Linked DNA regions of Homo sapiens. The protein of the gene in region 1 purifies or fractionates together with the protein of each later gene. This does not show direct contact. Each region holds a gene or a part of one and is shown in the gene's direction. Other genes may lie near its edges.

Evidence for each region. Proteins that work in one complex are often made in the same cells at the same time.
Region 2: the proteins of PTCHD1 (region 1) and CSRP1 purify together in Homo sapiens (co-immunoprecipitation; one study listed by IntAct). This does not show direct contact.

What each region holds. Positions count from the first base shown.
Region 1 is NC_000023.11:23,390,349-23,393,848, forward strand, and holds part of PTCHD1 (patched domain-containing protein 1), read left to right. Parts: intron 1-2,182; coding exon 2,183-3,500. UniProt on the Homo sapiens protein: Required for the development and function of the thalamic reticular nucleus (TRN), a part of the thalamus that is critical for thalamocortical transmission, generation of sleep rhythms, sensorimotor processing and attention. Can bind cholesterol in vitro.
Region 2 is NC_000001.11:201,504,324-201,508,386, reverse strand, and holds the start of CSRP1 (cysteine and glycine-rich protein 1), read left to right. Parts: upstream 1-1,263; 5' UTR 1,264-1,317; intron 1,318-1,547; exon of another isoform or gene 1,548-1,763; intron 1,764-4,063. UniProt on the Homo sapiens protein: Could play a role in neuronal development.

The sequences.
Region 1 (3,500 bases):
AAAAAACAATATTATTTCTTCAGGGACAGTGCCTCAGAAGTATTCTCTTTTTACCCTCATTGTCAAGAGAATGGTTACTTAATTAAAGGTCAGTGGGTCCATCTTGAAAATATACTAGAAACAGATTTAATCATGTTCCCTCTCCAGACTAGATGTTAATACCTAAGCATAATTAACAACAGGATGCCAGTCAATGAGTGTACTTTTTACTTCATATCTGGGGAGTTTAGGTGCCTTCAATTTAATAGGGGCCTCGGTGCTAGTTAACAAATTGACAGTCTTGACCTGACTTCTAAAAGTGGCTGTAAAACGATGCCTAGTCAATTAAGATAAATGCCAAATTCCTCTGAGGAAACAGGCCTAAATCATTACTTTGAAATGGGCATTTCAGGTATGAGGCCAGGACTTCACAATAAGGATATAAATACTAGCTTGGGCATGAGGGAAGATGTACACCTAGCTATTGTACACACAAGATAACAGTGACTCACTTTATTCAGCATTATGCTTGGCTGGAGATTTTAAATTCCTTTTTAAATACAAGACTATTGTACCACAGGGTAAAGATTTTATTATCCTCAATAATGGGATTGAATATGCCAAGGCGATGGAAGCAGGAAATTAGATCTGCTGATCCCCATTGCCAAGACAGGAGTTATCGAAATCCACAACGGGTCACTTTGGTGAGCCTTCCAATGTTGCAGTGGCCTGGAAACACAGGGACTCGAAGTAGGGAAATGTCTGGCTCCAACTACGAGAGGTGGTAGAAGTCATGCTAGATCAGGTTCCAGGCAGCAGAATGGAGTTTAGAACATGAGCATTTACTGTACCTCTGCTATTTCAGTATTGCTGAAATACTAAACCAGGAGGCGAAGGCACTAAGCAGTTACGCAGCGGGGTTACTGATCTGGCTCTTTCCCACAGATGCCACTATCAAATAGCGCGGAGAAGCTAGCAGAGTCGCTGCTGACGTATTATATCACTGCTTGATAAGTCATGTATGAATAACCAAATTGGTCAAACAGATCCCTGAAGACAAATTGCAAGTCATAAACCTTCAACCTGAATCCTAATTTTTATCAATAACCAGGAGAGTTCATATTTATCTTATTTTTTCTGTATTTTCTTCACTGAAACTTCTTCACTCCTACTTATTTTGCTTCCCTCTTTCTAAGATTTATTGCTTCCTGCCCTGATATTTGGGGAGGGAAAACAGAGGGGGCTGTGATTTAGTTTCCTGTCAAGACTCAAATGAAATACACTGCCTCTTTATCACTAAAACCCTCTAGTTGGCAAATTTTAAATGAGGTGACAGGACATTAACTCAGAACCCTCTGCCCACTATCTTCCTCTGCACTGACCCCTAGCCAGACTTGTGGGGACGGAAAGCAAAATGATGAGTGTCCAGACATCTTCTCTTCTCTGGAGCGTTCCACCAACCAAACTGCACCAATAACTCTAAGCTATTAATGGGAAAAATCCCCAAGAGACATATGCACAAGTCTAATCAGCTTTTATTCTTTTTAGAGTCAGGGTCTTGCCCTGTTGCCCAGGCTGGAGTGCAGTGGCACAATCATGGCTCACTGCAGCCTCCAACTCCGAGGCTCAAGAGATCCACCTGCCTTAGCCTCCCAAGTAGCTGGGACTACAGATATGAGCCACTATTCCTGGCTAAGTTGTTTCATTTTCTTTCTTTTTTTTTCTTTCTTTTTTCTTTCTTTCTTTCTTTTTTTTTTTTTTTTTGAGAGATGAGGTCTCGCTACATTGCCCAGGCTGGTATCAAACTCCTGGTCTTAAGTCATCTTCCTTCCTCAGTCTCCCAAGTTGCTAGGATTACAGGCATGAGCCACCATGACTGGCTCTACTCAGCTTTCTATAGGCAAAAGTTCATCTAAGTGCTGTTTGTTTGGTGGAACACTCCAAAGAAGAGAACTTTCTTAAGCCAGAGGGAATATGAAGATCTTTGCTTCTCTAGCTGCCCTTTCGTTATCCATTAACATTTACGATTCATAAAAACATGGGTCTATCTCCGCATAGGAGAAATCATTGGCATTTACATACCCGTCACCACTAGGGTTGATTACGTTTCCTTTGACCCAGTAGTCCCTCATAATCAAGTTGATTTCCCTCTTAAGAGATTAGTTCTTTAAACTTCTGCTCTGGTCTTTTTCTGCCCTCTTAGGTCATGGATTATATGGGACTTTTGAAATGTTATCCTCCTGGAGGAAAACTAGAGAAGACCAACATGTTAAAGAGAGAACTGCAGCAGTCTATGCAGACTCCATGCTCTCCTTTTCTCTCACCACTGCCATGTACCTGGTCACCTTTGGCATAGGGGCCAGCCCTTTCACGAACATTGAGGCAGCCAGGATTTTCTGCTGCAATTCCTGTATTGCAATCTTCTTCAACTACCTCTATGTACTCTCGTTTTATGGTTCCAGCCTAGTGTTCACTGGCTACATAGAAAACAATTACCAGCATAGTATCTTCTGTAGAAAAGTCCCAAAGCCTGAGGCATTGCAGGAGAAGCCGGCATGGTACAGGTTTCTCCTGACGGCCAGATTCAGTGAGGACACAGCTGAAGGCGAGGAAGCGAACACTTACGAGAGTCACCTATTGGTATGTTTCCTCAAACGCTATTACTGTGACTGGATAACCAACACCTATGTCAAGCCTTTTGTAGTTCTCTTTTACCTTATTTATATTTCCTTTGCCTTAATGGGCTATCTGCAGGTCAGTGAAGGGTCAGACCTTAGTAACATTGTAGCAACCGCGACACAAACCATTGAGTACACTACTGCCCAGCAAAAGTACTTCAGCAACTACAGTCCTGTGATTGGGTTTTACATATATGAGTCTATAGAATACTGGAACACTAGTGTCCAAGAAGATGTTCTAGAATACACCAAGGGGTTTGTGCGGATATCCTGGTTTGAGAGCTATTTAAATTACCTTCGGAAACTCAATGTATCCACTGGCTTGCCTAAGAAAAATTTCACAGACATGTTGAGGAATTCCTTTCTGAAAGCCCCTCAATTTTCACATTTTCAAGAGGACATCATCTTCTCTAAAAAATACAATGATGAGGTCGATGTAGTGGCCTCCAGAATGTTTTTGGTGGCCAAGACCATGGAAACAAACAGAGAAGAACTCTATGATCTCTTGGAAACCCTGAGGAGACTTTCTGTCACCTCCAAGGTGAAGTTCATCGTCTTCAATCCGTCCTTTGTATACATGGATCGATATGCCTCCTCTCTGGGAGCCCCCCTGCACAACTCCTGCATCAGTGCTTTGTTCCTGCTCTTCTTCTCGGCATTCCTGGTGGCAGATTCACTGATTAACGTCTGGATCACTCTCACAGTTGTGTCCGTGGAGTTTGGAGTGATAGGTTTCATGACATTATGGAAAGTAGAACTGGACTGCATTTCTGTGCTATGCTTAATTTATGGAATTAATTACACAATTGACAATTGTGCTCCAATGTTATCCACATTTGTTCT
Region 2 (4,063 bases), on another chromosome or scaffold:
TCTCGAGTAGCTTGGATTACAGGCACACACCACCACGCCTGGCTAATTTTTTTAATTTTTTTGTAGAAACAGGGTTTCACCAGGTCTCGAACTCCTGGGTTTAAGCAATCTGCCTGCCTCGGCCTCCCAAAGTGTTGGGATTACAGGCGTGAGCCACAGTGCCTGGCCAAATACTTCATTTTCTAGATCATAAGATGCTTAACTTTATTCCTGGCAAAAAGTTGATTCAGCAAACCAGGGCTTTAAGTGAAGCCGGTTGGGGCCTGAACCCTTGACACCTGCCCAGGGTGGAAGACATAGCAGCTGCATCTATGGGCCACCTGGGGTGTAGGGTGACCAGCTGGAGGCTGTGAGCTTCTCTGCTCCCTGAAATGCCTGCACGGGGCACTCAGGAAGGGCTGGGGACTGGGTGAGGAGGTGTGGACAGAATGTCCCCTGGAAACTGCCCCAGGGGCAGCTTGAGTGGCCTGAGCCTGTGTCTGTCCTACTGAAGGTTGGAGCCCCAGAGAAAAGCCTCTATGGAGGCACCCACTTTTCAGAACTGCTGCTTTTGCGGGAGAACACCTTTTTCCAGGTGTTGTCCTTAGGGTAGCAGGGAAGACTGGGAAAAACTGAGGGGCAAGAGCTGTTGGAGGGGGGAGTTACATTTATTGAGTGTCTATTACATGCCGGGTGCTGCTGAAGGTCTGCGGGTCCTACCGGATCTCCTTTTAGCCCCTCACATCCCTGTAGATTACACGCCGTTCACAGATGACCCTGAACCCAGAAGGGCTGTCTAGGCCCAGGGCCCAGCTAGTGAGTGGATGGGCAGAATCAGACCTGCCCTGGAAGGGTCTGTCTTACCCTGGCGCCCAAAATGTGTCCCTCACCCTCTGCCACCAGGACAAGTAAATTCGAGACACCCTTTCGTTAGGGGCTCAAGTTTATCATGGGTCTGACCTCTAAGGTCATATCTCCGCCTTCTCACCTGACAGACAGGAAACTCCTGAAATGCCCCTCGCACGTGCAAGACGTTTTCCGCGGTGGCGGCGACAGGGCGCACAGTGGGACCGCAGCACGAGCTCGGAGCACCCCCAGAGTCGGCGACTCCTGCCCCCGCCCCTGCCGGCCGGCCTTCCCGGGGCCTAGGAGGGCAGCACCGCCGGGCTTCGCGCCATGACATCAGCCCTGGAGTGGTGCAGTGTGCAAAGCCCACTGGTTGGCGTGGCCCGGGACACGCCTTCCGCGGAGCGGAACAAAACGGCGCGCAGGCCGGGCGCACCCAGCCGCCACTTCCGAGAGCGCCTGCCGCCCCTGCGCCGCCGAGCCAGCTGCCAGGTGAGTGCGCCCTGAGTCGCGCGGCTCTGCCCGCCGCGGAGGGGCGCCTGGGCACGCACTCAGCGCCTCCCGGTCTTGCCAGCCCCGCCGCAGCCCCGGGGCTGTCGCAGGCGGGGAACTGTGAGAAGTGACCGCAGTTAGCCCGGGCAGTGCTGCTCTTTTCTGGAGGCACTAGGTCCGTCCCCATCCCGGGCCTTCCTGGGCTTCCTGGACACAGTTGACTTCCGCGTGTGCGTGACCCAGGGCGACCCGGCTCCCCGCAACCGCCTGCAAGTCGGGCAGAACAATCGGCGATTCTGCGCGCCACTGACGCTCATTGTATGGCAGAGAGATGAGGGCATCCGTGCCACCCCCTCCCTCACCCTCCTGCTGGGGAGAAAATGCCCGCGGGCGGGGTGGGGCAAACATCTGGGCCTGACCTTGGACATCTGTGTCCCTGAGCGCAGGTGTGAGTTTTCCCTCTTGTGAAATAACTGCATGGAAACCTCTCCACTCCAAATCTTGGTGCTAGGTGGTGATGGTTACTGAAACCTGAAAGAGCCTGCAGTCAGTGTTTTGTGGCCTCAGTCCTTGAAAGCTGGGAAGTGATAAAGGGGCTGGTATTGAGCACATTTAAAGCAAATCACAATGTGTTAGCTAACAATCAGCCCTCTGAGGCAGGTATTGTATCTACTGGTACAGACTAGAGAATATTTTGCATGCTTCTGGTTCTGGTGCTGTTGTGAACTAACCAGGACCCAGGAATCGGCTGGAGCAATAGTGGGCTCAGGCTCTGCCTAGAGCCCTGGGCTCCAGCCACCCACCAGCTGCTCCCTGAGAGTGAATGAATGGGCAGGCTCTCCCCACGCTGGGATACTATCACAGTGGCACCGAGGAAATCCACTGGGCCCTGGTAGAAAGTATATCAGTATATCATGAAGAGGTGGCTTGGAGTCTTGGTGGGATTGTTTGGAAGGCAGAGTTTTGACTCTTGGATTTGCCACTTAACGCGCAGGTTTCCTTGGACAAACTATTTAACTTCTCAATGTCTCAGTTTCTTTCAGGGATGCTACTTGGGGAGCATATTACACAGAACCTCCAACACAGGAGTGATCTCTCAGTTACTGTCTTTCTTGTCCTCCCCTCATCCCTTGCCTTCCTCCCAGAAGCTAAGGAGGCTGGAGGTGCTGGTTGTCTCCCTCTGTCCTCTCAGACTGCATGTTGGGGATTTTCCCCAGGTGGGATTTGGGGATGGGTACTGAGCCTCCCCTCAACTGCTCTCACTCAACTGCTGCCTCCTGACTCTCCAGCTGGTTTCTGGCTACCTCTTTTGAGAGAGACTGTCCTCAGCCCTCAGCTGCTGGAGGGCAGCTTTTACCCATTGTTTCCTAAATCCAGCCTCCTCCTGCTCACGGTCTTCCAGTGAATGACTCTTTGCCTTGGAGAGGATATCCGGGGCGGAGGCAGTCAGACGAGGAAGGAAGTTTATCCTGCAGAGGGTGTAGTGTGGGTTAGAGGAGAGGGAGGAGAGAACTGTCTGCAAGGCCTGAGATGCCCAGGATGGAGGGTATGGGGAAGAAGAAGCAGGAGAGAAACTAAAGAGAAGGCCCATCAACTCTGCAATTGGCCTGCTAATAAAATGGGAAAAACAGGGGTGCTGTGGCCTATTTGCCTGTGGTCTGTCTTAGCACCTGCCTTCCTGGCCCAGGTGTTTGCTCTTTTAATTGCACACATGTGCATCTGCCTCTGGAGCTAGTGAGTCCTGACTGGGCCAGAGTTGCAGCCTGGGAGTGTAGTGACACTTGACTGAGTGATCAGCAAACATTTGATGAATGAGTGGGGTAGCAATGGTCTTTCAGCTGAGTTGGCCTACGGGATACTCATAAACCTTGCAAATAGTTACTAGCCAGTTTTTCCACTTGGGTAGATTGACAAGCAGGTGAGAGAAAAAAGGCGTAGGTTTTTTTTGGGCTTTTTTGTGTGTTTTTGTTTTGAGGCAGTCTTGCTCTGTCACCCAGGCTGGAGTGCAATGGCGTGACATTGGCTCACTGCAACCTCTGCCTCCTGGGTTCAAGCGATTCTCCTGCCTCAGCCTTCCAAGTAGCTGGGATTACAGGTGTCTGCCAATATGCCCAGCTAATTGTTTGTATTTTTAGTAGAGACGGCATTTCGCCATGTTGGCCAGGCTGTTTTTGAACTCCTGACCTCAGGTGATCCACCTGCCTCGGCCTCCCAAAGTGTTGGGATTACAGGCATGAGCCACTGCGCCCGGCCTGGTGTTTTTTTTTTTTTTGGAGACAGCGTCTCACTATATTGGCCAGTCTGGTCTCGAACTCCTGGCCTCAAGTGATCCCCTCCCTGTCCCCACCACCATCTCAGCCTCCCAAAGTGCTGGGATTACAGGCATGACCCACTGCGCCTAGCAACATAGTTTTTAATTCACTGTCCATCCCTGGTGTGGGAAGCAAATTGGGAAGGCTTTTCTGGCAGGTTGTTAAAGTTTTAAATATGTATGTAAGCCTAGCTTATTGTGAAACGTTGGCTTGCTAGATGAAGACACATGCGTTAAATATTTTGGGATCCAAAGAGGTGCTAGTGAGAATAAGACTTTTTCCTCCAAGTCAGCCATTTGGCATTACTCAGGGCATATTGTCAAATATCAAAAGAGATACAAACCTGAACGATAAGTGTTAGAGTTGGCCTCTCCTTAAGATAAGGATAACCAGATATCTGCACTTGCAGTGTACCAGACAGTGTGAGAAATACT